7 linked regions of the Homo sapiens genome follow. The protein of the gene in region 2 purifies or fractionates together with the protein of the main gene of each other region. This does not show direct contact. Each region holds a gene or a part of one and is shown on either strand. Other genes may lie near its edges. The genes, in order: ZCCHC17, KNOP1, ZFP62, SHQ1, DDX31, ZNF106 and NMNAT1.

Region 1 (3,500 bases), on a different chromosome or scaffold from region 2:
ATTTTTAGGATGGAGTCTTGCTTTGTCACTCAGGCTGGAGTGCAGTGGTGTGATCTCGGCTCACTGGAGCATCTGGCTCCTGGGTTCAGGCAATTCTCCTTGAATCGCTTGTAGTCCCAAGTAGCTGGGACTACAGGCGCATGCCACCACACCCAGCTAAGTTTTGTATTTTTTTTTAACTAGAGTCGGGGTTTCACCATATTAGCCAGGCTGGTCTCAAACTCCTGACCTCAAGTGATCCACCTGCCTCATCCTCCCAAAGTGCTGGGATTACAGGCATGAGCCACCACACCCAGCCAGTACTTAATTTTCTAAAGGCAGGTGGATCTCTTGAGCCTAGGAGTTCAAGACCAGCCTGGAAAACATAGTGAGACCCTGTCTCTACAAAAACAAACAAACAAAATTACCAGTAACCTCCACGTGGCCAAATCTAGTGGTCAATTATTGGGTCTTATTTACTTGGTCAGTCAAGATGGATACAGACCATCTTACCTAGAACACATTCATGGTATTTCTACCACATTTTACATTCTCTTACTTTTCTACAAACTTCCTTGGCTGTTCCTTTCCTGTCTTCTTTGTTAGTTCATCCTCATCTCCATAACCTCTAAGTGTTGAGCACTCTGGGGCTCAGTCTCTTCCCTATATTTACTCTGCAGGTGATCTCATGAACATAAATACCATCTATATGTAGATGACTCCCAAATTTATATATCTTACCTGGGCCTCTCCCTTGAACTCCAAACTATATATCCACTGTCTACTCTATGGTCTACTTGAATATCTGATAGGCAACTCAATTTCTATGCCCCGCCCCCTCCCAAACCTAGACTCTCCCAGCTATCTTTCCATCTGTGTAGACAGCAACTCAAACTAAACTCCTGACTGCTCCCTACTCCCACACTTACTTCTCCTGCATTCCTTCTCTTAACTCAAATCTTCCAGTTACACAGTCCAAAAATTTTGATGCCATCCTCACCTGCTCTTATATCTTCAAAATATATACACACTTCAACTCCTTTCTCATCATTTTTGCCACTGTCATTCTAGTCCAAGCCACCATCATCTGGATTATCTATCAACTCACTGCTTCTACTCTTGCTTTCTGACCATCTAAGTTTCTACATAGCAGCCAGAATAATTCTCTTAAAAGGAAGTCAGATCATGTCATTCCTCTGCTCAAAACCTCTAATAACATCCATCTCACTCAAGTGAAAGATGAAATCCTCCCAATCACCTATAAGGCCCCAGTGATCTGGGTTCCTTCTGATCTAACTTCCTCTCCTACCACTCTCTTTTCATTCATTTCACTGTAGCCACACTGGCGTCCTTAATGTTCTTTAATCATGCCACACTCTTTCCCAACATCAGCTGTTACATTTGCTGAAATGCTCTCTCTCCACTTACCTGAATAGCTTGTGTCCTCACTTCCTTCTGATATCCACTCAAACAACACTTTATGAGAAAGGCCTGGCCCAGGCCAGGCGCGGTGGCTCACGCCTGTAATCCCAGCATTTTGGGAGGCCGAGGTGTGTGGATCACCCGAGGTCGGGAGTTCAAGACCAGCCTGAACAACATGGAGAAACCCGTCTCTACTAAAAATAGAAAATCAGCTGGGCGTGGTGGTGCATGCCTGTAATCCCAGCTACTCGGGAGGCTGAGGCATAAGAATTGCTTGAACCCAGGAGGCAGAGGTTGCAGTGAGCTGAGATCGCACCATTGCACTCCAGCCTGGGCAACAAGAGTGAAACTCCGTCTCAAAAAAAAAAAAAGAAAGGCCTGGCCTTACCATCCTATCTAAAATGAAAGTCACCTGCTCCCCACATCCTCATTCTAGGACTCCCTATCTCCCTTAATCAAATTAATTTTTCTCTATAGCACTTATCACTACTTGATACATTATTTTTACTATTTTGTATTTGTTTACCAGTTTATTATCTGTGTCAATCGACCCCATCCATTAGAATCTAAGTGCCATGAAGATAGGGATTTTACCTGTTTTGTTCACTACTTTACCTGCAATGGCCAGAACAGAGCTTAGCACACAGTAGAAGCTCTATTAATGAATGAAGCTGGAGTATAGTGTGTGGGAAGAGACTGGTGGGAAATGATGCTAGGAAGCTGGGCAGATTGTGAAGAGTCTTAAAGGAACTTAGACTTTATGTCATAGAAGAAAGCGAACCACTGAAGGCTTCTGAGTAGGCAACACTGGGCAACGCTCTCTGCTGTATCTGAATAGGCAGAGAATGTGTCCCTGAGTGGGCTCAGGACTGGCAACCTTTCTCTATATAGGCACCAGAAGAAGTTCTCTGGACAGCAGGACAGAGCCAACACTGCAGCCAAAGAATGACATTCCTATTTCTTGTTCTTCTATATATGGTACAGCAGAAAATCATATGGTAAAATCAAAAGAAAATTATATTCTGAATCAAACATATCTAAAGTTTACTATAATCAGTGGGCAGCTTGGTCCCCAAGGCACTTACTTCTTCATAACATAACACCGATTCAGAAAGACCTACGATGGCATATGATTAATGAAAGAGGCCAGTAAAGCACAGACCACAAGTTCATCAGAAGATTATCCAGGGATTCACTACAAAACCTCCATTCCTATTTTACCAACCACTTCATAGCCCATTTCCAATTGCAACACACAGTTTCCTTTTATTCTAATTATGCCCAACAAAAATTATTTATAACATTCAGTCACTGGGACAAAAATTGTTCATGGTGCCAGATGCACACAACTAAATCAATGCATCCTGGACTTGTGGGAAAAGGCATTCAATACATGTATGTTTTAATGAAAAGACGTGGGAAGGCTCAAGGTTAGGAAGATCTGTTATTCTTACTCCTGCCCCTGCTCCTTTCATTATCGCCCACTGCCAGCAGCAGGAGTCAATACCTATTACTCTGCAATCTGAGGGCAGGTTTCACTGAGTGAAGACACCCAAGGAATGACAGAGAGCACAGATTATGAAGTCTATCTATTCACAGGTAGTTAGTGCATGTATTCCTATTAAGTACCAGGCATTATTTGTAAAAGGTGACATCCTTTCCTTATCCTGGGCTATTTCTGGTGGTTCCTCAACAGGTCTACCATTTTCTGTCTTCTTAGAGGCTTTGCATTGTCTTCCACTAGACTATAAAAAGTGAGGTAATGAAACAGACTTGTGAAGAAACGGAGATGAGAACCTAATGAGACTTTCCAGTTCTAGTCCTAGGTGGCCTGACTACACTGCATTTCCTGTCCTTGGATGTCCATAAAATCAAATAACCTCCTTGGAATGTGTTTCTATCCTTTACCACCATACATAGCTTGGCTGCTTATCTTTCTCCTTATATGATTAGCCGCTTGAGTGTAGGTACCATATGATCTTTATTTCATGAGTTACTTTTTTAACTGTTAGAAATGCATTAACTGAACTTACATGAGTTACTATCATATATGCCCTTCCACACGCCAGGCATTCCTACTCTCCACTGTCCAACTCAGG
Region 2 (3,396 bases):
AGATCCACACTGGAACTGGACATAGATTACATTTCATCTTTACTCTGAGAAATACAAGACTACAGTTGAACACTCAGTTAACCTCAGACAGTAAAAGGGGCTAAAAAATTTTTTTAAATCAATTTATTGGCCGGGCACGGTGATTCACGCCTGTAATCCCAGCACTTTGGGAGGCTGAGGCAGGCAGATCACCTGAGGTCAGGAATTCGAGACCAGCCTGGCCAACATGGTGAAACCCCGTCTCTACTAACAATACAAAAATTAGCCAGGCGTGGTGGCACACACCTGTAATCCCAGCTACTTGGGAGGCTGAGGCAGGAGAATCGCTTGAACCCAGGAGGCGGAGGTTGCAGTGAGCCGAGATTGCGTCACTGCACTCCAGCCTGAGTGACAAGAGCAAAATATCATCTCATCTCAAAAAAAATTAAAGGACAGCAGACACTAATGAATGCTTCTTTCCCTCCCCTCTACTAAATCATACAGAAACTCAGACAGCATTGTGGGGTGGCTCAGATACTCCCAAGTGGCCTTTATTTCACAAAATTCTGTTTTTTTTTCTTTTTTTTGAGACAGTTTCACTCTTGTTGCCCAGGCTGGAGTACAATGGCGTGATCTCGGCTCACCCCAACCTCCGCCTCCCGAGTCTAAGCAATTCTCCTGCCTCAGCCTCCTGAGTAGCTGGGATAACAGGAGTGCGCCACCACACCCAGCTAATTTTGTATTTTTAGTAGAGATGGGGTTTCTCCATGTTGGTCAGGCTGGTCTAGAACTCCTGACCTCAGGTGATCCGCCGCCTCGGCCTCCCAAAGTGCTGGGATTACAGGCGTAAGCCACCGCACCTGGCCCACAGAAGTATTTTCATTAAAATTATTTTATCTACTTTTACTGTGTGATGCTATAAAATGAAAAACAATTGGCAAATTCACAAATTATGTTCTTCAAGTCATTTCTTCTCCTCTGAGGCTGAACGTGGTGGGCAGCATTAGTTCCCAAGCCTAGGCCAGTGAATTCTTACCGCTCTCACATTACACCTGAACTTGGACTTTCACATGAGGTCGGGCACCCATTATATCAAAGGTGCTTCTGAATCCTGTCATGTGGCCCAGGCAGAGGCTTAGATTTTATATGTCCTTGTGTGTGCAGTTTCCCCCAGCCCTTTACTGAATCAATAAGCCGGTCTCTGAAAACACTGGTCTATGTGAGATGAAGTCTATCATTAGCAAGGATGGAGCAATAAGATGTCAGCCAGAATTGTAGAAAATAAAAATGATGGGGCCTGGGTGCGGTGGCTCATGCCTGTAATACCAACACTTTGGGAGGCTGAGGTAGGTGGATCATGAGGCCAAGAGATCAAGACCATCCTGGCCAACATGGTGAAACTCCATCTCTACTAAAAATACAAAAAAAAATTAGCTGGGTGTGGTGGTGCTCACCTGTAATCCCAGCTTCTCAGGAGGCTGAGGCAGGAGAATCGCTTGAACCCTGGAGGTGGAGGTTGCAGTGAGCTGAGATCACGCCTCTGCACTCCAGCCTGGGCGTGGAGTGAGAGTGAGACTGTCTCAAAAAAAAAAAAAGAAAGAAAAACAAAACCATGGCAACTTCCACATGAGACTTACTTACATTAGGTCTTCTATTGTTACTTTAACAAATTGCCACAATTGTAGCGGCTTAAAACATAATGTTGTCATCTGACGGTTCTATAGGTCTTAAGTCCGCCTGGTCTCACTGAGCTAAAATTAAGGCATCAGCAGGGCTACGCTCCTTCTGGGAGGCTCTAGGGGAGAATCTACTTCCTTGCCTTTTCCAGCTTCTAGACAGCACACACATTCCTTGGCTTCTGACCCTTCCCTTCCCATCTTCAAAACCAGCAGTGTCTAGTCAAGTCTTTCTTAAGTCTCTTTGATGTGGACTCTTTTTTGCCTTCCTCTTCCACATTTAGGGATCTTTGTGATTCCTCCGGCCCACCCAGAAACACGGGATCCTCTTCCTGTTTTAAGGTCAGCTGATTAGCAAACTTAATTCCCTTTTGTTTCGTAACCTAACAAATACACAGGTTCTGAGGAGATGTGGTAGGAAGGGGTGTTATTCTGCCAACTTCTTTTGTGAGGACTGTGTCTATTTGGCAAATTTTTTTTTTTTTTTGGAATGGGGTCTTGCTCTGTCACCCAGGCTGGAACACAGTGGTGCAATCATGGCTCACTGCAGCCGTGATGGAGGGTGGTGCTCAAACCAATGTTAATTTACAAAGGATGGGAGCTCAGAGTGATTCTCCCAAGACAAGACTGCCAGAGGGTGGGGTCCTGCTCATCTGAGAGATGGTGATCTGCACTGGCAGAAAGCAAAAGGACAAGATTAAGTCCATTCTGAAGACACCCAGCATTGTGGTGTCTTGGCTGCCCAACCTCCACTGGTGAGACGTAAAGTTCTTATGTATATAGAAAAGCAATAAAGCTCCCCCTGTGCAAATGGAACTCCTAAGCCAGTGGTGATGTTGAGTTAGAAAGTCACAGCCTATTACAGACAGAATTTACACCAGGGGCAAGGCCTGACCATCACACCCTCATGAGAGCTACCAGTCACCAGGGCTTGGATGGGAGCAACACAGCGGACATATGATCACCTCTCCACAATCACCCAAAGACAGTTTTTTTTTGTTTGTTTTTGAGACAGAGTCTCATTCTGTTGCCCGGGGCTAGAGTGTGCAGTGGCACCATCCCAGCTCACTACAACCTCCACCTCCCGGGTTCAAGCGATTCTCCTGTCAGCCTCCTGAGTAGCCGGGATTACAAGCCCGTGACACCACACCCACCCAGCTAATTTTTGTATTTTTAGTAGAGACGGGGTTTCACCATGTTGGTCAGGCTGGTCTCGAACTCTTGACCTCGTGATCCGCCCACCTTGGCCTCCCAAAGTGCTGGGATTACAGGCGTGAGTCACCGCACCTGGCAGAGCACAACCTTTTTAACAGAGCTAAGGCAGGCCAACGTCAGGGTGACCTCTTGGCAAGATAAAAACTATGAGTAGTAAACGGCCGATTCCAGCTACTCAGGAGACTGAGGCACAAGAATCGCTTGAACCCAGGAAGCAGAGGTTACAATGAGCCGAGATCACGCCACCACACTCCAGCCTGCGCGACCGTGAGACTCCATCTCAAAAAAAAAGAAACGAACGGCTGGTTCCTGTTTACACCAGGCACATTCCTGTAGTGTTGCTCAAGGTCAGGAGGGATTTGTTTCTCCATCAAAGGAGGAGGTGCCCAGAAGGCACTCACTCAAATCCAGAACACTGCCTCTTGGGCTTTCCACGGCCTCTCCCATTATGTATCTCAAGGTTGAATCCAGGAAAGAAAGGCAGGACAAGTTCACGTCCTGAGGGAAGTGGCCCAAGTAGGTCCTT
Region 3 (4,283 bases), on a different chromosome or scaffold from region 2:
GCTACAATGAAACGCCCATTCCCTCTACTTGAGTGAACACAGTGTCTCAGCACCCACATGTATAAAAATGAAAAATAGGCGTCGAGCTGATGCCAAACACCGGCTCACCCCAGCAATATGTAAAATTCATTCAAATAATATAAATAATTTGAGCTGTAAAACAAAATCCATCTCATTACAAGTTGTGCTTCCAAAGCACTTCACTTTTTGTCTAAGAATTAACAGTAAACATTTTGAAATATTTATATAATTTTGCTAATAATCCAGAAAATAACACTAAGAAAAAATGTAATCTACTTTCGTTACGGACATATATGCTAGGATAAACAATAAACAATAAAACAATGCATAGAACTATTTTACACTAGGATAAAATTCAATGAGGCACATAGAATGAAAATATTTTTACAGTAGAATAAAAAGCCGGTGAGGGACATAAAAGTTCAAGGAAAAAAACCCTAAAAGATGTAAAACTTATGACTGTTAAAAGTGGATAATACCAAATCTTCAGGGATTTAGATTCCATTGGATACACTTGAAAGCAATTTTGTTCTTAATATTAACAGCATGCCAAAAATATACCCTTTGCAATTATTTAAACTTAATATGAAAAATATTTAGATGTTGCTGTTTTTAAAAAAGGCTGACTATAGCCAATAACTTAGTTGTATATTTAAAAATAAGAATATAATTTGATTGCTTGTAACACAAAGGATAAATGCTTGAAGTGATGGACACGCCATTAACCCTGATATGATTATTACGCATTGCATTCCTGTCTGTATCAAGATATCTCACGTACTCGACAAATAGGGACACCTACTATGTACCCACAAACATTAATTTAAAAAAAAAAAAAAGGTCTTCAAAGTCATTTTAGGCCCTGGGTTTGGAAGCCGACACCGGCGGTGGGGTGGGCAGGGGGCGAGGTCGCTGCCAAGCTGGCGCCCCGGGTGGGAGCGTGGCCCGGTCCCAGGGACGGCTCCAGGGGCGCGCTCCCACTCCGCATCCCCAGTGCCTAACCGGGGGCGCTTCTGGTGCTGACGACCAGGAAGGGCTGGTGCTCTCGGGCCAGCCCCCAACCAGCTGAGAAGGCAATGGGTCCCCAGCCCAGCGCTGTCCTGCGCCCCTCCCGGATTCCCCCATTTCCCGCCAGGCCCCCACTTCCGGGAACGTCCCCGCACCCACACCTGGCAATGAATCACGTGTTCAGGAACCAGGTAGGCAGGTATTTACTTTATTACCTGTGCCCCTCCCCCAGCCTACCCCAGAAGCTAATGGGCACGGAAACAGAAAGCCCCGCCCACGGCCTCCTGGCCGCGCCTGGAGCGCGCGCCCTGCAGCTGGTCCTCAATAAATAGCCGAGGAGGCGCTCCCCTCCCTCCCTCCCGCCGGCGCCGTCGGCCCGGACCATCGAGTCAGTCCTCCAGCGTCCCAGAGAGGGCGCGGAAGTGCCCCAGGGCCGGCGCGGGTTCTTCCGGCCGTGCGGTCCGCGCTTTTGTCCCGCTGGCGGCCGGGTTCCCGCGGCGCCGCCACAGCCAGTACGTGAGTCCGCGGCCGCCCGCGCTCCCGCCCCCGGCCCTTGCCTGCCACGCCCTCCCCTTTTTGGCCGGGTCTTGGCTGCTCCGCGGGTCTCGGGCGGGATGTGGGAGTAAGCGTGCCCCCTCCCCGCACATGTCTCAGTGGGTGCGTTTCTGGGGAGCGGAGGGGAGGGAAGACCTCGGGCAGGCAGAGGGGTGCAGGGCGCGCCCCTGGAACAGACTGGGCTCTGTGTGGGCCACAACTGCGACGTTTGAACGGACCAGCGTCATGTTAGGTCTGCTCAACGTTCCGAGAAGGGCCAGGGCCCCGCTCCGGTGTTCCTCAACTATTCATCCCTGTTTTGGATGGGAGGGGATCCCTAAAAATTAGCGCTTCAAAATACCCACCATTTCGTGCTCCCTCTGCAGTTAAGTTTGGTACTCTAGGACTTGAGAGTGATTGCGAGGGCAGAGAGACCTCTAGGGGTGATCTGATTCGACCTTCTTCCCCTCCGCTCCACCCCACCACCTTTTTTTCTTTTTTTTTTTTGGTCGGTGAGTGATGATGATAAGCTCCCGCTGCAGGTGTGAATAGAGACCCCGGAGGTGCGTCCTAGCCCTCATCTGGGGAAGCGCACCTGCATACAGACGGGTGCACCGGGGAGGAGGCGACCTGCCGCGTGTTCCTGCAAGCAGAAAAGGAGTTAACTAGGTAGGGAGAGGAAGGTCGAAGAGTTTCTTAGACCCAGGGGACAGCCTGCGGGAACCCAGGGGTGGGACGGAAAAGATCACTGGGGAATGCCAGGGCTGGGTGTGCTGCTCTAAGACATTTAAAGTAGTTGGCCAGCAGGAGCATTTCTTTGTGAAAGCTCAAGGCTTAAAAAAAATAATAATATGAAATATGTAATATATTCATATGGCTGGGATATTAAAAATATAAAAAGTTACCAGTGAAAGATTTCTTCCCATCCCGCTTAGGTATCTTCCTAGGCCCTACCCTCTTAGGTAACCACTTTTGTTCCTTTGTATCTTTTCCGAATTTCTGCAAATACTGGCAAATATAACTAGTTAGTTCCCCCTTTTTTCACACAGGTGATAGAAATCCTTCTAACTCCTTGATTCTTTCACTTTATCTTACTGGTCTCTACATGTCAGAACACAGAAGTTGTGTTTTGTTTCGTTTTGTTTTACAGAGCTGTGGTAAGTATTGGATGGGCCATTGTTTGGATGTTTTCGATGTTCTGTCCTTTTTTAGATCTATTCGGGGGCATTTGGGTTGTCTCCAATTTGTTGTTACTTCAAACAATGGTATACTCAATACAGTGTATTAGGGTAGGGATTTTTACAGAAGAAACTAAACAGCCGTTAGAAAATTATTTTTTTACATTAACTCAACCAGTTATTGGCAGATTGTTACATATGACAAGTCGTTATCAAAATCACTGATGTAGAGTGTTTAAAGAACAAATAAGACGTAAGTAGTTCTTCCCTTCTGAGACTTGTCCCTATATTTAGTGTTACACTAGCCTAATAGACTAATTGTGTCAATGACTCCAAGCCAGTCCCTGCCGGGTTTGATTCAGAAAATCAGCCTCCCTTTTAGTATCGCCTTTGCTCACCTCCTCCCCTACGACAACTAGAAATCTCTTCTCCACTACTTGGCATGAGAATGTTCTATTTCAGTTTTTTACTTTAAGGAAAAATCACCTTTCATTCTTATTTCTATATTTAAGCAATAGAACCAACTCACGTTAATCATATACATTCCTAATATTCATAAGACAAATGCAACAGTAGCTAGAACACAAACCATATTCTCTTCTCATCTGCATATCACTTCTCTGTTCCTTAGTCCCATCTTTCCTTTGTACATTTTGCCCCTCCTAGGTACTCTTTGTTCTGGGTTGGTAAGCATTTTGTCACTTTCTCTTGTCTTGTTTCCTTTCTTTGCTCATCTCCAAATCAAAGACAGTATCCAAGGATTTAAGGTGTAGAATCCACGCGTGAACCTTGAGGTGGTAGATTGTCTTGTGGAATATGGTTGGACTCTGCAAATTGAAAGTCGTTCCGGGCTAGTTGCAGTCTGTTAATAGGAAGGGGTTTTCGGCCAGAGCAGGCCACGGCTCCTCTCTAACGAGTTGTCTCGGCTCTTGAAAAGTGGCTCCTGAGTCTCGGAGGCAGAGACAGCAAGAATGTAGGGCCGGTTCTTAACTGTTTGCATTCACTTTTCTAGGCCTTGGCGATAAAGCATGAACAAGAAGCTCGGAAGAGTGCCCAGAGGTTGTTGGTCGTATGTAGTTTGGAAGGAGTGGGTGGCGTTCTATGTCTGACGCTTTTGGCTGATGTAACCAGGCTATTAGACTCATGCTGCGTGTTGAAAACTGGTTAGAAAGGGCTTGTCCATTCAGCCTTTAGAACTTTTAAGAAATTCAGGAGTTTCTGGGTCTTTATATGGAAGAGTTGTGTTTTGGGGGTAATTCCTTACTTGTGTCATCAGGGACACATGACTTAGCTACCAAATCAGTCTTGATTGGATTATAGTGACTTACTCCTGGAACTCCAGGACTCAGTCCTGTCTTGCCTCAATCCATTCTCCCACTGCAACTAGTGTGAGTGATCTTTCTTTTTTTTTGAGACAGAGTCTCGCTCTGTCACCGAGGCTGGAGTGCAATGGCGCTATCTTGGCTCACTGCAACCTCTGCCTCCCAGGTTCAAGCGATTCTTGTGCCTCAGCCTCCCAAGTCGAGTAGCTGGAACTACAGG
Region 4 (3,500 bases), on a different chromosome or scaffold from region 2:
TGGCAAATGATCTCGGCTCACTGCAACCTCCCCTTCCTGGGTTCAAGTGATTCTTCTGCCTCAGCCTCCTGACTGGCTGGGGTTACAGGTGTGCACCACTATGCCTGGCTAATTTTGTATTTTTAGTAGATATAGGGTTTCTCCATTTTGGCCATGTTGGTCTTGAACTCCTGACCTAAGGTGATCGACCCACCTCGGCCTCCCAAAGTGCTAGGATTACAGGCGTAAGCCACCACGCCCAGCCAATCACTTCATTTCTTTTAGTACAAAAGAGGGGTAAATCCCTACATAATAATGATGAGATTTGACACTTTTGCTTTCTGCTTTTTTTTTAAAGTAGTAATTTGCCTGATAAAATCAATTGGTTTTGTGTTTCTTTATTGTTTCCCATTGAGTATCCCTTATCTGTACAGATTGAGTGTCCCTTATATGAAATTTCAGATTTTCTAGAGTTTTGGAATATTTTTGCATACATAATGAGATATCTTGAGGATGGAACTCAAGTTTAAACACAAAATTTATTTGTTTTATATACACCTTATACATATAGCCAGAAGATAGTTTTATGTAATTTTTTAATACTTTTGTGTATGCAGCCAAGTTTTGACTGCTTTTTGACTGTGACTCATCACATGAGGTCAAGTGTGGAGTTTTCCACTTTGTGGTGTCATGTTGGTGCTCAAAAAGTTTCAGATTTTGGAGCATTTCAGATTTTCAGATTAGGGATACTCAACTTGTGTTATAACAATAGTGATAACTACTATTTATTATGGCTTTTCTTTTTCAGTATCTATTTTGTTGGTGACTAGGGGTATTCAAATAGAAAGATGAGTCATCTCTAATTTCTACTTTCTTGGTTGGGGAAAGAATCTAACTTAGTTTATTAAAATGTGAAAGAAATACTGAGGAACTTCTTAAAAAATGATTGATATATTTTGATGGTTAAATGTTTGCAAGTATTGATGGCCACTTATGTTACGTTATAATTTAAGGACTTCATGAGACCTGTGTTAAATCTGCAGATTAACCCTTCCTGGAAGAATTGTAGAAAATGGAAGTGAGCAAGGGTCCTATGATGCAGATAAAGGTATTGTCTTTGGAATTTTTGTTAGTTTATTTCTTGGGATTTTTCACATTATTTACATAATAATCTTACAAGATACCATGGGGACCTTTTGATGTCTTTCAAATACAATCTGTTCCTATCACTCTTTCTTGTTTCTTAGTGTCCAGTGCCTGTTATTGATGTTCCCCACCCCTCACAAGTCTTTTAAAGTATTTCACAATGTTCTTCAAAGTAAAGTTAACTGCTCCGGTTCTATTTCCTAGAGTACTTCCCCTACATTTAGTAGACATTTAAAAGTAAAAATTAGAACATGTGAAATGATTGATCATAAAAAATGTAGATGACTTATGAGCTTATGAATGGAATCTTTCTGGTATAATTTTCAAACTTGAACTTTAATAACAGGTAGGTGAGAGAGAAACTATGCATGGGTGGCATTTAAAGGCTAATTGAATTTTCTCCTCATGATTGATAAGCCCTTCATTTCAGCTAGCCATGAACCCATTTATTTTTCCTTTATAGAAGCCACTGGCTTCCTTTGTCATCGGATTTAGAACACCTTGTGTAGTCTTGTGTACTTTATTCAATGAATATTGACCTCAGTGAACTAGGCTAAGGGTAGGGTATGGGGGGGTGGGTTAAATGACAGAGATCTAACCCATAATGCAGTGTAATTAATGTGTAATGAAGTATAGTGAAACTGCCTTCCTAGGTAGTAAACCAGCTTTTAGTTATAGGTAAGTTGCATATTGAAACAAAATTATTAAATTTTTAAAGTACACAGGAGTTAAGGAAGATTGTGTATGCGGAGATATTTGGGCTGAGTTGTATTTGATATGTTGGAATTCAGTTCAGTACACTGAAAGAGGCAAAATGTTTTAAAATGTCAAAGTGCTAAATAATGTAGTAAGTTCCCAGGGAAGCCTAAATAAGATAGATAAACTCAGTCAAGGAAAGAAAAGAAGTACATAGACTTTAGGGATTTGAGTCTGCCATAGACTTTAGGGATAGATCTCCTGACATGCCAGAAAACCTTATTAAGCCATAATTGTTGTATCTAAGATTCTGTGTATTTTTAAAACTGTTGCCATTCTCCATTGGATTAGGTATTCTGATTTTTTCCTCCTTTCCCAGAAGTCTAATTAGTAACTCCTGGTTAATTCTAAGCTATTACCTTCTTAGGCCATTGATTTTTATAAGTTTTAACTTGGATTTTTAATATTATCAGTAGGTAAAGGTCATACTGTATAAGACTAAAGTATTCTGTAGCTTTCACAGATAAATAATTTTTTTTTTTTTTTTTGAGACAGAATCTCGCTCTGTTGCCCAGGCTGGAGTGCAGTGGCGCGATCTCGGCTCACAGCAACCTCTTCCTCCTGGGTTCAAGCGATTATCCTGCCTCAGCCTCCCAAGTAGCTGGGACTACAGGTGCACATGCCACCACTCCCAGCTAATTTTTGTATTTTTTAGTAGAGATGGGGTTTCACCATGTTGGCCAGGATGGTGTTGATCTCTTGACCTCATGATCCGCCTGCCTCGGCCTCCCGAAGTGCTGGTATTACAGGCGTGAGCCACCTTACCCAGCCAGATTAATAATTTTTGATAGAAATGACAGCTTCTGAAAAACCCTTGTTAAGAACCTTTTTCTATCTTGACTTGTATTCACCAAATCTATGAGGGCATAGTTTTAGAGCCTGTAAAATAGAATTATGTTTTACCAAGACATGTATTTCTCAGATATATTTGTGAAGTCTTTGACTATTTTATTTATTTATTTTTTTCTTTTAATTAAAATGATTTTATTATTATTTTCTGTAGAGATGGGGTCTTGGTATGTTGCCCAGGCTGGTCTTGAACTCCTGGGCTAAAATGATCCTCCTGCCTCAGACTGCCAGAGTATTGGGATTACTGGTGTAAGCTATTGTGCCCAGCTTTTTAAATATTTTAATCTAAGCATAAAACAAATTTATCTTTAAGGAATTTTTACCATTCGCCTGCCCAAAGAAACCCCTGGCCAGCATTTTGAGGGGCTGAACATGTTAACTGCTCTTCTGGCACCAAGAAAATCCAGGACAGCAAAACCACTTGTGGAAGAAATAGGTATGTTTATTACAGTTGGGAGGAAATTAGGATAAATAGAAATATTTGGAATGCTGTGTATTTGTAGGGGAAATGGGATATAGTGAATAGGAAATTGAAGAAAATACTTCAGGTATAAGGTGATCATGTGAAACCATATGAAAATAGCTTCTTTGGTGATATAATTAAGACATTAAAAATCCTATTGAACCAGATCACTCACATTTTTGGACCAATTGAAACAACATTTTGTGGTTGGCAAAATATTAGCATCTTGAGCTAAGATCAGAAGTATACAGTTAAGTGAGTTACGTAAAACAGGGGTCCCCAACCCTCAGGTTGCAGACCAGTACTG
Region 5 (3,500 bases), on a different chromosome or scaffold from region 2:
AGCTTGGTCCCCGACACTGGAGCACCAGGCCAGCCTTGGACTGGCTCTGTCAGATTTCTTAAATGTGAAAGAAAAATAAAACTTGTATATTGTTTGTGCCACTGTTATTTGTTATTATTGTTGTTATTCACAGCTGAGTCTAATCCTAACCAATGCTTTGAGGTTTCAGGTTTCATATTTACTCCTCAGTTATAGACTACATGCATCATTATTGAGTACTGATTATTAAGCTATAATACAATAAAAATGTTTTCAAAAGAATGAAGACAATTTGAGATTTACTTGTTGCAACGATTTTCAACTGACACCCATTACAAATCCTAATAAAGGAACAAACATATTCGGTTGTAAAAAGCAAGTTACAAAGCATTATATAAGTGAATGATCTTGTTTTTGTAAAAGCAAACAACAAAACCCCAAACTCTTAATGTCCACAAAAATGAGTGGCATGCAGGTGGATGTATACTAAACCAGGGATGCTATAGAGCATTGGGTAGGTGGGAGTTAAGAAGTTGACAGCACTGTTACTAGCAACATCAGAAGGAAACCTGTTTGTAGGTTTAATATTTTAAAAAACAGCACCGTCTAGAGGTGACCGCTCCCCACTGACTCAATCTGTCCCTGTGCACCGGGACTAGGAAGCAGAGCCTGAGACAAAGCTCTCAGCAGGTTTAGAAGGACCCAGCCTTACTGAATAGGAAGGCAGGACACATTCAAGAAGGAAACAACAACCAACAAACCTCTTCCTACCTGGCCTTTTCTGATTTTCTCTTCTCTCCTCCCATTAACACTCCAGGCACAATCCAGGTGAAAGGCTACAGAAAGACAGCAGACCACAGTCAGTGCAAAGCCCCCTTTACTAACATCAGACATTGATTCCAAATTCCCTTTCCTTAAACAAGGCATGGGAGAAAACTGGTGCTTCTCATTGTATAAGGTGTTATTGTGCAGACACAATTCCTAGGCATTGCTACACCCATGTTCACTATCAGCAGTAACTTGAATTATAGGTATATAACTAGCTTCTACCACAGTGAGAGAGAAATGTGAGCTTCTTAAATCATTCAAGTAGCTTGCCTTTCTTTTCCCACAGAGCCTGAACTGAAAACACATGTCAGTAAGTCTACTGCCATTTTTGGGGTTAAGATAAAAACCCAAGCAACACCCTTCCCTACTCTCCACCCCTAATAAAAGAAAGGATGGATCAATTCATGATCCAATTTGGTGAGCTGGCTGGCTTTGATTCTGAAGCCTTCACTCTCCTTTCTTAAACAAATCCTACTTGCAGCTAAGTTGCTTTCTACTGGATCACCATCAGGCTGTACCTGTGAATTTCTGTATGTGGCTTGCTAGTGACTATGATGAACAAATTGCAGGACTTTATGCACCAGGAGTCACTGATAATTCAGCTAAGCTAGAAATTGGTAGGTTTAGATCAGTAAAAACCTATAAACTGCCTAGAGAGAGCAGAGATATCCAGGCAAAAGGAAATAATTCTTATCTCTTTGAAAATAAAGAATAGACTGTAGTATATTAAATCCTTCCTCAAAGTCAGCAAGCAAGATGAAATGGAACTCATGGTTTGCCTTACCTTAAGCAGTTTCTGGACAGTGTCAAAGCTTTGTAGAGCTAGCTGTAAAAATTTTAAAAGTTATAGATGATGAACAGGATCCCCCTTTTTTTTTTTTTAAAGACAATTTAATGTGATTAGGATCCAAACTTGGACCTCAAGTTAAGATTTAAGAAGAAAAAAAATCCTATACACAGAATCTAATATACCTTGTTCTTAGACTGGTTCTGCAACCTGTCAGTTTGGGCAAAGAGGGTAAAGACAACACTTCTATTTCTTGGACATACACAAAAATAGTGTTTTGTGCTCCCTCTGCTGGCTCAAATTCCCAGAGTGCCACACAGAGAAGTTCAAGTCTGTGGTGCACAAAAACGTAAGAGAATGAAACAAAGTAACCTGAATTTGACTCTCCTTAGAAAGAGAAAGAATATAATATGTACGCAGAGTAAACCACAATAGTGACGCAACAGGGTAGCCTCTGGGAACTTCGCTCTCAAGGAGCGATGACTGTATTCTACAACTGTGCCAGGATATCTGAAGCCTGGGAGATGGTCGCTCCTCAAGTTTATATCAATAAAACAAAAGCAAACCAACAGCTCCATTTGAGAACAAAGCAAGTGAAAATTAAAGTAGGCTACAACCATTAACAACCTTCAAAAATGCCTCATACAGAATCCCGTTCTTAAAGAACGTATATACAGTTTCCACATATTTAGTATTCATGAAGCATCCTCGAGAAGTAGCAAGTTTGCTGCTGTAAAAATTTTAATAGCTTCTGTGCCTGCTCCTTCATTGGACTGAGCTGAGATAGGGGACTGCAGGCTATATGAAAAGCTGACTTCAAATCATCTCTGTGATCAATTCTCTGTAAGGAAGTGATTAGCATTTGATATAGAAACCACATACCCTAATCTGAAGTTGCCTCTGTAGGCAAATAAAATAGATCAGATAGAAGAGATTTCCACCAAGAAAGAAAAAAATATTGAAAAGTTTAACTTTTAGGAACAAGTAACATTTTTGGTAGCAGTAGCTTCTTAAAAAAAATAAAGGTTCATTTTCAGAGCCAACTGCTTTTGGTTTTGAATAAAGTTGCTAAAAAATTGCATTTCTGTAGGTTTTTTTTTAGCAACTTAATTCAAAACCCAATTAAACAGACATTTAATAGTATCATTAGTTTCTAGACAATAGGAAAATACTTTTCCATACTTATGATTCTCAGAGACTACTTGAATTTTTCTCCTTGACAAGAACCAGAAGGATGGTTTCCAGGCAAATGGAACTGGTGTGCAGTGGCTTGTGCAGTAGGGAGAAACATGGTAAAACCACTTTTAAATTCAACGGGACATTAGTGAAAGCATGTGCTTAAAACTTGTCCCAAAAGGGAGCCTGCTTACCTCTCTCGTTGGCACGAGCACCAGGGCATAGGGGCCATCACTGCGCTGTTGACACACAGAAAAAAAATGCCATGAGCAGGATAAACAAAGGCAGACTCCAAACGGACAGGACACAGGGGTGGCCGGTTGTAGAACATCAGAAGCACTCTTAATGAAGAAAGGGACAAAATAAGGTTGCCCACTGATGTGGTCTGGCTGTGCCCCCACCCAAATTTCGACTTGCATTGTATCTCCCAGAATTCCCACATGTTGTAGGAGGAAGGGCAGGGGGGCAGGAGTGAGGTGGTAATTGAATCAGGGGGGCCGGTTATTCTCGTGATAATGAATAAGTCTCACGAGATCTGATGGGTTTATCAGGGGTTTCTGCTTTTGCGTCTTCCTCATTCTCTCTTGCTGCTGCCATGTAAGAAATGTCTTTCGTCCTCTGCCATGATTATGAGACCTCCCCCAGCCATGTGGAACTGTAAGTCAAATTAAACCTCTTTGTCTTCCCAGTCTCGGGTATGTTTTTATCAGCAGTGTAAAAATGGACTAAC
Region 6 (3,500 bases), on a different chromosome or scaffold from region 2:
AAAGTGTTTATTAATAAAAATAACCATGCAAAGTATCATCTTATTTAAAATAGGTTAAGAAATGGAGTTTTTCAGAAAGAACCTACAACTGGAAAAATCATGGTATTAAGGGCAGCTGAACATAAAATTGTACTAAATATGATAACTAGGCCGGGCGCAGTGGCTCAAGCCTGTACCCCTGTAATCCCAGCACTTTGGGAGGCCGCGGTGGGTGGATTACCTGAGGTCAGGAGTTTGAGATCAGCCTGGCCAACATGGTGAAACCCCGTCTCTACTAAAAATACAAAAATTAGCCGGGTGTGGTGGCGCATGCCTGTAATCCCAGCTAGTCGGGAGTCTGAGGCAGGAGAATTGCTTGAGCCTGGGAGACAGAGGTTGCAGTGACCTGAGATTGTGCCACTGCACTCCACCCTGGCCAACAGTGCAAGACTCTGTCTCAAAAAAAAAAAAAAAAAAAAAAGATAACTATAGCTATAAAATATACTTGTTCTTTTTCCAAAAAACCTGCATAATACAAAAATAATAATTGGATGATAGGGACAAAATCTCAGAACATGCCAAGAAAAACAAGACCAAGAAAGGGAGGGAATATAAATGTGCCAAATTTTTGTTTGTTTTTTTGAGAGAGTCTCACTGTGTTACCCAGGCTGGAGTGTAATGGCATAATCTCAGCTCACTGCAACCTCCACCTCCTGGGTTCAAGTGATTCTCATTCCTCAGCCTCCCGAGTAGCTGGGGTTACAGGCGTGCTCCACTACGCCTGGCTAATTTTTGTATTTTTAGTAGAGATGGGGTTTCTCCATGTCGGCCATGTTGGTCTTGAATTCCTGACCTAAAGTGAACTGCCCGCCTCGGCCTCCCAAAGTGCTGGAATTATAGATGTGAGCCACCACACCTGGCCAAATGTGCCAAATTTTTAATATTTCTGAGTGATGGGGGAGATGGTTGTAATTACTTGAAATTTAAGTAATTTAAAATGTTTTATTTTTAAATTAATAAGTTGAGGAATATACGTTTAAATATATCATTTAAAGATATGAAAACAACCACTATTAGATATAAAACCAGACTCGGTTACATATTCTAAGTAACGGGAGGAAAGTACAAGGGAAGTTTGGTGGGTTATGCCTTTCAAGGTAGCATAGGAATTCCTTTAAATCGCTAATGAAAAACTGTTTTTCTTCCAGACAAGATGAACCTTCCAATAGCAACCAAGAAATAAACTCTGATGACAGACGACCCCAATGGAGACGAGAAGACCGAATTCCTTACCAAGACAGAGAGAGTTACAGTCAGCCTGCATGGCATCATCGTGGACCTCCACAGCGGGATTGGAAATGGGAAAAAGATGGCTTTAATAATACTAGGAAAAACAGCTTTCCACATTCTTTGAGGAATGGTGGTGGACCAAGAGGACGTTCCGGGTGGCATAAGGGTGTTGCAGGAGGCTCCTCGACTTGGTTTCACAACCATAGTAATTCTGGAGGTGGTTGGCTTTCAAATAGTGGAGCAGTAGATTGGAATCATAATGGTACAGGAAGGAATTCCAGTTGGCTTTCTGAAGGAACAGGTGGCTTTTCCAGTTGGCATATGAACAACAGTAACGGAAACTGGAAATCCAGTGTACGTAGTACAAATAATTGGAATTACAGTGGCCCTGGAGACAAATTTCAACCAGGCAGAAACAGAAATTCTAACTGTCAAATGGAAGACATGACTATGCTATGGAACAAGAAATCTAATAAGTCAAACAAATACAGTCACGACAGATATAATTGGCAGCGGCAAGAAAATGACAAACTTGGTACAGTTGCCACATATAGAGGTCCTTCTGAAGGATTTACAAGTGATAAATTTCCTTCAGAAGGCTTACTCGACTTCAATTTTGAGCAGCTGGAAAGCCAAACCACTAAACAAGCAGACACTGCTACTTCCAAAGTTAGTGGAAAGAATGGCAGTGCGGCAAGGGAAAAGCCTCGTCGCTGGACGCCTTACCCTTCTCAGAAGACTCTGGATTTACAGTCGGGATTGAAAGACATCACTGGTAACAAGTCAGAAATGATAGAGAAACCTCTCTTTGATTTTAGCTTGATAACTACAGGAATACAGGAGCCCCAAACTGATGAAACACGTAATTCCCCAACACAGAAAACACAAAAAGAAATACATACTGGATCTCTTAATCACAAGGCCTCTTCTGATTCCGCTGCTTCCTTCGAGGTGGTGAGACAGTGCCCCACTGCAGAAAAACCTGAACAAGAGCATACACCAAATAAAATGCCATCATTGAAATCCCCACTCCTTCCATGTCCAGCCACTAAATCATTGTCTCAAAAGCAAGATCCAAAGAATATCTCAAAAAACACCAAAACAAATTTTTTTTCCCCTGGAGAACACTCAAATCCCTCGAACAAGCCCACTGTGGAAGATAACCATGGTCCTTACATATCCAAACTGCGTAGTTCATGTCCTCATGTTTTAAAAGGGAATAAAAGTACATTTGGCTCTCAAAAGCAATCTGGTGATAATTTAAATGATACTTTACGAAAGGCCAAAGAGGTGCTACAGTGTCATGAGTCATTGCAAAATCCACTTCTTAGCACTTCTAAAAGTACCAGGAACTATGCAAAAGCAAGTAGAAATGTAGAAGAATCTGAAAAAGGGTCTTTGAAAATTGAGTTTCAAGTGCACGCACTAGAAGATGAAAGTGATGGAGAGACATCTGACACGGAAAAGCATGGAACAAAAATTGGAACCCTAGGTTCTGCAACTACAGAATTGTTATCTGGCAGCACTCGAACTGCTGATGAGAAAGAGGAGGATGACCGCATCCTGAAGACTTCTAGAGAGCTATCCACTTCCCCATGTAATCCCATAGTTCGCCAGAAAGAATCTGAATTACAAATGACATCTGCAGCCAGTCCACACCCTGGCTTATTGCTAGACTTGAAAACCTCTCTAGAAGATGCACAGGTTGATGACTCTATTAAATCTCATGTATCTTATGAAACAGAAGGCTTTGAGAGTGCTAGCTTGGATGCAGAGCTTCAAAAAAGTGACATCAGTCAGCCCTCGGGCCCTCTCCTGCCTGAACTAAGTAAGCTTGGCTTTCCTGCCTCACTTCAGAGGGATCTAACCCGGCACATTAGTTTGAAGAGCAAAACTGGAGTACACCTTCCTGAGCCAAACCTCAATAGTGCCCGCCGCATTCGCAATATTAGCGGTCACCGAAAGAGTGAGACAGAGAAGGAGTCTGGGCTCAAGCCAACCCTACGGCAGATTCTAAATGCATCTCGGAGAAATGTCAACTGGGAACAGGTCATTCAGCAAGTAACCAAGAAAAAGCAAGAGCTGGGCAAAGGCTTACCCAGGTGTGTGCTGCTTTTCGGTGTCTTTTTTTTCCTCACTTTCTTTTAAAGTAACCCTTTGACCCTGATCAAGAGAATTCTACGTGTTTCATTTAATTAAATGTTTGCCAACAATATCTGTTGTAGATGTCT
Region 7 (4,078 bases), on a different chromosome or scaffold from region 2:
GTGAGTCACCGCGCCCAGCTCAAATCTTATTCTCTATTTAGCACTTATTTCTGCCTTTAATTATATATGATTTTATTATAATACGTTATCTCCTCTGACTAAACTCTGGAGAACAGAATATGAGTCTGATTCCTCTCTCAGCTTTCTCAGTACCTAATACAGAATAGAACGTCGATAATTTGGTCACGTATATAAAGGCTCAACATATTTTAAGGAGCTAAAGCTATTCTGAATACATTTCAGTAAAAATGGGTGCATTTTAAAAGCCTTAACCTGGTACTACATTAGTTGAGATTTATCCCCGAAAGATTAACTCGTTGGCACCACCTAGTAGTCACTAAATGTGGTGCACTTTTCACTTTTACGAAACTACAGAAACCGCTCTCAGACACTATATCTGGAGCGGAGGGTCCTCATTCATGCTCACCTGTCTCTTAGTACTCTGATCTCTGCACAGTGCCGACCGGTCTCAAATTGCACAAACCTCCAGTTCTTGACGTTCCGAGTGTCATAAACTTGAGGAAAATGAAATTATTCATCAGGACTACAAAAGGCTCAAAGTTCAAACCACCTCGGGGTGGAGATGCTGGAAAAAAGGAAACCATTAACAAGTAATTTTATTTGCTATATATAAACTTGCCCTAAGGCAGTCCAGATAACTTCCACTTGAGCAGCCTGAGACATCAAGGGCGGGGGCACTTTCCCCCTCGACTGCGCCTACCGCAGCCTTTCTGAGTTTCTTCCTAGCGAGGCCGAGAGGGTCTTTGAGGAAAATCCCGCATCCGGACACGCCTTGAGGGATGGCGTCAAACCCAGAGGCTTGGAAAAGGTAAGGGCGGAGAGCACGCCTCTTCCTTGAAAGTGAGGAGGGTTTGGCCCAGAACCAACAGGACTGGGTGAAGAATCAGCTCCGGCCACCGCAGCAAATCCCACCCCACGCGGGAACTTGAAGTCCGGCACGTAGGTCCCGCGGCGGCCGGGCTCCAACAGGCCCCAATTGCCACCAGAGGTAGCCGTAAACCCATGGTCCCCGAAACTCCTTCCGGGCCTACCTGACAAAAACTGGGACAACCTCCTTAGGCCCCCGGGATTCCCCCTGTGCCGCCTGACCGCCCGCCAGTCCCAGAGTTTAGGGCCAGGGGCCCCGCCTACCTGAGGGCACTGGCCTGGCGGACCGCGCCGGGGGAGCACTTCCGCTGGACGCACGCACTTCCGGCCCCCTGGAACCAATGAGAGTGCGACCGAGATGTTCCACTCGCTGGCGTCCGGGCCGCTGGTGATCTCCGGTAGCACTCGGGCCGGCGGACAGTGAGGGCGCGGTAAGCTCCCCGCAAGGAGCCCCTGAGAAACTGGTCGCTTTTTGTCCTAGATATAGGGGAGTCCAGGATGGTGTGGTGGAGTCTTTAGAGTCGAATATGACCCGAGGCAAGCTCATATTCAGGTTTGGGGCAAGGAGCTTTGATTGACCCTTAATTTTTTCAGTGGAACGGAAAACTTCGGTAAAATAGCTTCTGACCTTCGGAACAGATGGATTCACCTTGGAAAGGAAAAATCTCTTTCTAGAAGAGTCTTGAGGTCTGGCACCTTTAGGCTTAACGGGGGACGGCTGGGCGTCAGAGGAGGAAATCCTTCATTCCGAACGACTTCCCTTTCCTCCTAAATCCTTCTTTCCAAATCTGTAAAAGACTACATCTACTTTGCTGGAGGTGGTTTGACACTCATGCTCCTTGAGAAGGAGGTAATGAGCTGTAGGGCAGCTCTTAAAAAGTTACCCTTGGACGGGCGCGGTGGCTCACGCCTGTAATCCCAGCACTTTGGGAGGCCGAGGCAGGCGGATCACGAGGTCAGGAGTTCGAGACCAGCCTGGCCAACATAGTGAAACCCCGTCTCTACTAAAAATACAAAAAATTAGCTGGGCGTGGTGGTGGGCGCCTGTAATCTCAGCTACTCGGGAGGCTGAGGCAGGAGAATCGCTTGAATCCTGGAGGCGGAGGTTACAGTGAGCCGAGATCGCGCCATTGCACTCCAGCCGGGGCGACAGTTCGAGACTCCATCTCAAAAATAAAAATAAAAAAAAGTTACCCTTGGCTGTCGCGGTGTGACACCTGTAAACCCAGCACTTTGAGAGCCCGCGGTGGGAGGATCATTTGAGCCCAGGCTGGGCAACATAGCAAGACCCTCATAACAAAAAATTAAAAATAAAATTACCCAGAAACTGGTTGGAACTATTTAATGATGTTCTTAGTCCATCTTCCTGAAGTAGTCCACAGAACAACATCAGTGTTCATGGTAGAATTGTTTCATCAGGGCAGTTTTTTTTTAAGTAACAATGTCTTGTTAAAAAACAAGAGCTGTGTTGCCCAGGCTGGAGTGCAGTGGTGTGATCATAGCTCACTGCAGCCTTGAACTCCTGGGCTCAAGCGATCCTCTGGCCTTGGCCCCTCAAAGTGTTGTGGTGATTGGCACAAGCCACCGACAGGCCTGGAGTCTGAAGTTAGTTATATTTCAGCTACCCAGGATAAACTTCTAACTATGATTACCACAGAACTCTACCAAAACTAATTGTTTCACTTAGTTCTGTCTGATTATGGAATCTCTTTATTACCATCAGTTGTTTTTCAGAGTTACAATTTGAATATGAAACCATTTTTCTAGCCCACCTTAGAGAAGACTGTTGACACACTAGTTGAAATGGTTGCAATAGCCTCTACCTTGCAAGACACTTCAGATTCAAAGAATTTCCTTTGCAAAAGTCGGCCGGGTGCAGTGGCTCATGCCTGTAATCCCAGCACTTTGGGAGGCCAAGGCGGGCAGATCACTTAAGGTCAGGAATTCAAAACCAGCCCGGCCAACATGGTGAAACCCCATCTCTACTAAAAATACAAAAATTAACCAGGCGTGGTGGTCCATGCCTGTAATCTTAGCTACTCAGGAGGCTGAGGCATGAGAATCGCTTGAACTCAGGAGGTGAATGCTGCAGTGAGCCAAGATCACGACGCTGCACTGCAGCCTGGGTGACAGAGCAACTCCGTCTTAAAAAAACAAAACAAAACAAAACAAAAGAAGAAAAAAATAAAAGTACCTATTAATGCAATTATCTTTCAATTTTGATTCATAAATATGTGTGGAAGTGTCAATGTTTTGGGTAAAATGGAATTCACAGTGACAGAGTCAGTGCCATACAAAACAAAACTGGAAAATATACTTTAAAAAAATTATTTGAGCTGGGTGTAGTGGCTCACACCTGTAATCCCAGGACTTTGGGAAGCCGAGGTGGGCGGATCACGAGGTCAGGAGTTTGAGACCAGCCTGGCCCCTATGGTGAAACCCTGTCTCTACTAAAAATACAAAAAATTAGCTGTGCATGGTGGCGTATGCCTGTAGTTCCAGCTACTCGGGAGGCTGAGGCAGGAGAATTGCTTGAACCCGGCAGGCGGAGGTTGCAGTGAGCCGAGATCGTGCTCTTCAGCCTGGGCTACAGGGTGAGACTCGGTCTCAAAAAAATAATAATAATAATTTGAAAAATTTGCTGAATAAACATTTGTTCACAGTGTACTTTCCCTGATTTTTTAATTTTTGTTTTTGTTTGCCCTGTCACCCAGACTGGAGTACAGTGACACGAGCACGGCTCACTGCAGCCTTAATCTCTCAGGCTCAAGTGATCCTTGCACCTCAGCCTCCCTAGTAGCTGGGACTTCAGGTGCATGCCACCACATCCGGCTAGTTTTTGTATTTTTTGTAGAGATGAGGTTTTGTCATGTTGCCCAGGCTGGTTTCAAACTCCTGGGCTCAAGTAATCCTCCCACCTTGGCCCCGCAAAGTGCCGGAATTACAGGCATGAGCCACCCCACCCAGCCTTCCCCTAATTTTGATAATGATAATCCAATGTTCTGTTCTGGCATTTGTGTAGTTTTAGCGTGTGCAGTCTTCGAAGCAGTGGAGGTATTTGCCTTTTCTTCTCTGTGACTTAGTCATTCAGCAGTTCTATGCTAAGGGTTTTTTTATATGCCTTTAGGTTCTTGTTTAGAGTTAATGGATAATGAAAACATTTCTAATGCATAAGAGAAATGCATTCTGA

What was found.
Region 1: the proteins of KNOP1 (region 2) and ZCCHC17 purify together in Homo sapiens (affinity purification with mass spectrometry; one large-scale study listed by BioGRID and IntAct). This does not show direct contact.
Region 3: the proteins of KNOP1 (region 2) and ZFP62 purify together in Homo sapiens (affinity purification with mass spectrometry; 2 studies listed by BioGRID and IntAct, with this or other methods). This does not show direct contact.
Region 4: the proteins of KNOP1 (region 2) and SHQ1 purify together in Homo sapiens (affinity purification with mass spectrometry; 2 studies listed by BioGRID and IntAct, with this or other methods). This does not show direct contact.
Region 5: the proteins of KNOP1 (region 2) and DDX31 purify together in Homo sapiens (affinity purification with mass spectrometry; one large-scale study listed by BioGRID and IntAct). This does not show direct contact.
Region 6: the proteins of KNOP1 (region 2) and ZNF106 purify together in Homo sapiens (affinity purification with mass spectrometry; 2 studies listed by BioGRID and IntAct, with this or other methods). This does not show direct contact.
Region 7: the proteins of KNOP1 (region 2) and NMNAT1 purify together in Homo sapiens (affinity purification with mass spectrometry; 2 studies listed by BioGRID and IntAct, with this or other methods). This does not show direct contact.

The regions. Positions count from the first base shown.
Region 1 is NC_000001.11:31,356,032-31,359,531, reverse strand, and holds part of ZCCHC17 (zinc finger CCHC domain-containing protein 17), read right to left. Parts: intron 1-3,500.
Region 2 is NC_000016.10:19,701,437-19,704,832, forward strand, and holds the end of KNOP1 (lysine-rich nucleolar protein 1), read right to left. Parts: 3' UTR 501-3,396; downstream 1-500.
Region 3 is NC_000005.10:180,858,477-180,862,759, reverse strand, and holds the start of ZFP62 (zinc finger protein 62 homolog), read left to right. Parts: upstream 1-1,483; 5' UTR 1,484-1,540; coding exon 1,541-1,541; exon of another isoform or gene 1,542-1,650; coding exon of another isoform or gene 1,651-1,651; exon of another isoform or gene 1,652-1,686; intron 1,687-2,080; exon of another isoform or gene 2,081-2,668; coding exon of another isoform or gene 2,669-2,720; intron 2,721-4,283. UniProt on the Homo sapiens protein: May play a role in differentiating skeletal muscle.
Region 4 is NC_000003.12:72,841,946-72,845,445, reverse strand, and holds part of SHQ1 (protein SHQ1 homolog), read left to right. Parts: intron 1-1,022; coding exon 1,023-1,087; intron 1,088-3,043; coding exon 3,044-3,166; intron 3,167-3,500. UniProt on the Homo sapiens protein: Required for the quantitative accumulation of H/ACA ribonucleoproteins (RNPs), including telomerase, probably through the stabilization of DKC1, from the time of its synthesis until its association with NOP10, NHP2, and NAF1 at the nascent H/ACA RNA.
Region 5 is NC_000009.12:132,649,484-132,652,983, forward strand, and holds part of DDX31 (ATP-dependent DNA helicase DDX31), read right to left. Parts: intron 3,010-3,500; coding exon 2,965-3,009; intron 1,634-2,964; coding exon 1,592-1,633; intron 816-1,591; coding exon 751-815; intron 1-750. UniProt on the Homo sapiens protein: May have DNA helicase activity and RNA helicase activity. Probably have ssDNA and RNA dependent ATPase activity. Plays a role in ribosome biogenesis and TP53/p53 regulation through its interaction with NPM1.
Region 6 is NC_000015.10:42,449,642-42,453,141, reverse strand, and holds part of ZNF106 (zinc finger protein 106), read left to right. Parts: intron 1-1,187; coding exon 1,188-3,371; intron 3,372-3,500. UniProt on the Homo sapiens protein: RNA-binding protein. Specifically binds to 5'-GGGGCC-3' sequence repeats in RNA. Essential for maintenance of peripheral motor neuron and skeletal muscle function.
Region 7 is NC_000001.11:9,942,197-9,946,274, forward strand, and holds the start of NMNAT1 (nicotinamide/nicotinic acid mononucleotide adenylyltransferase 1), read left to right. Parts: upstream 1-1,278; 5' UTR 1,279-1,319; exon of another isoform or gene 1,320-1,575; intron 1,576-3,816; exon of another isoform or gene 3,817-4,078. Other genes in the region: protein LZIC, read right to left, coding at 485-539.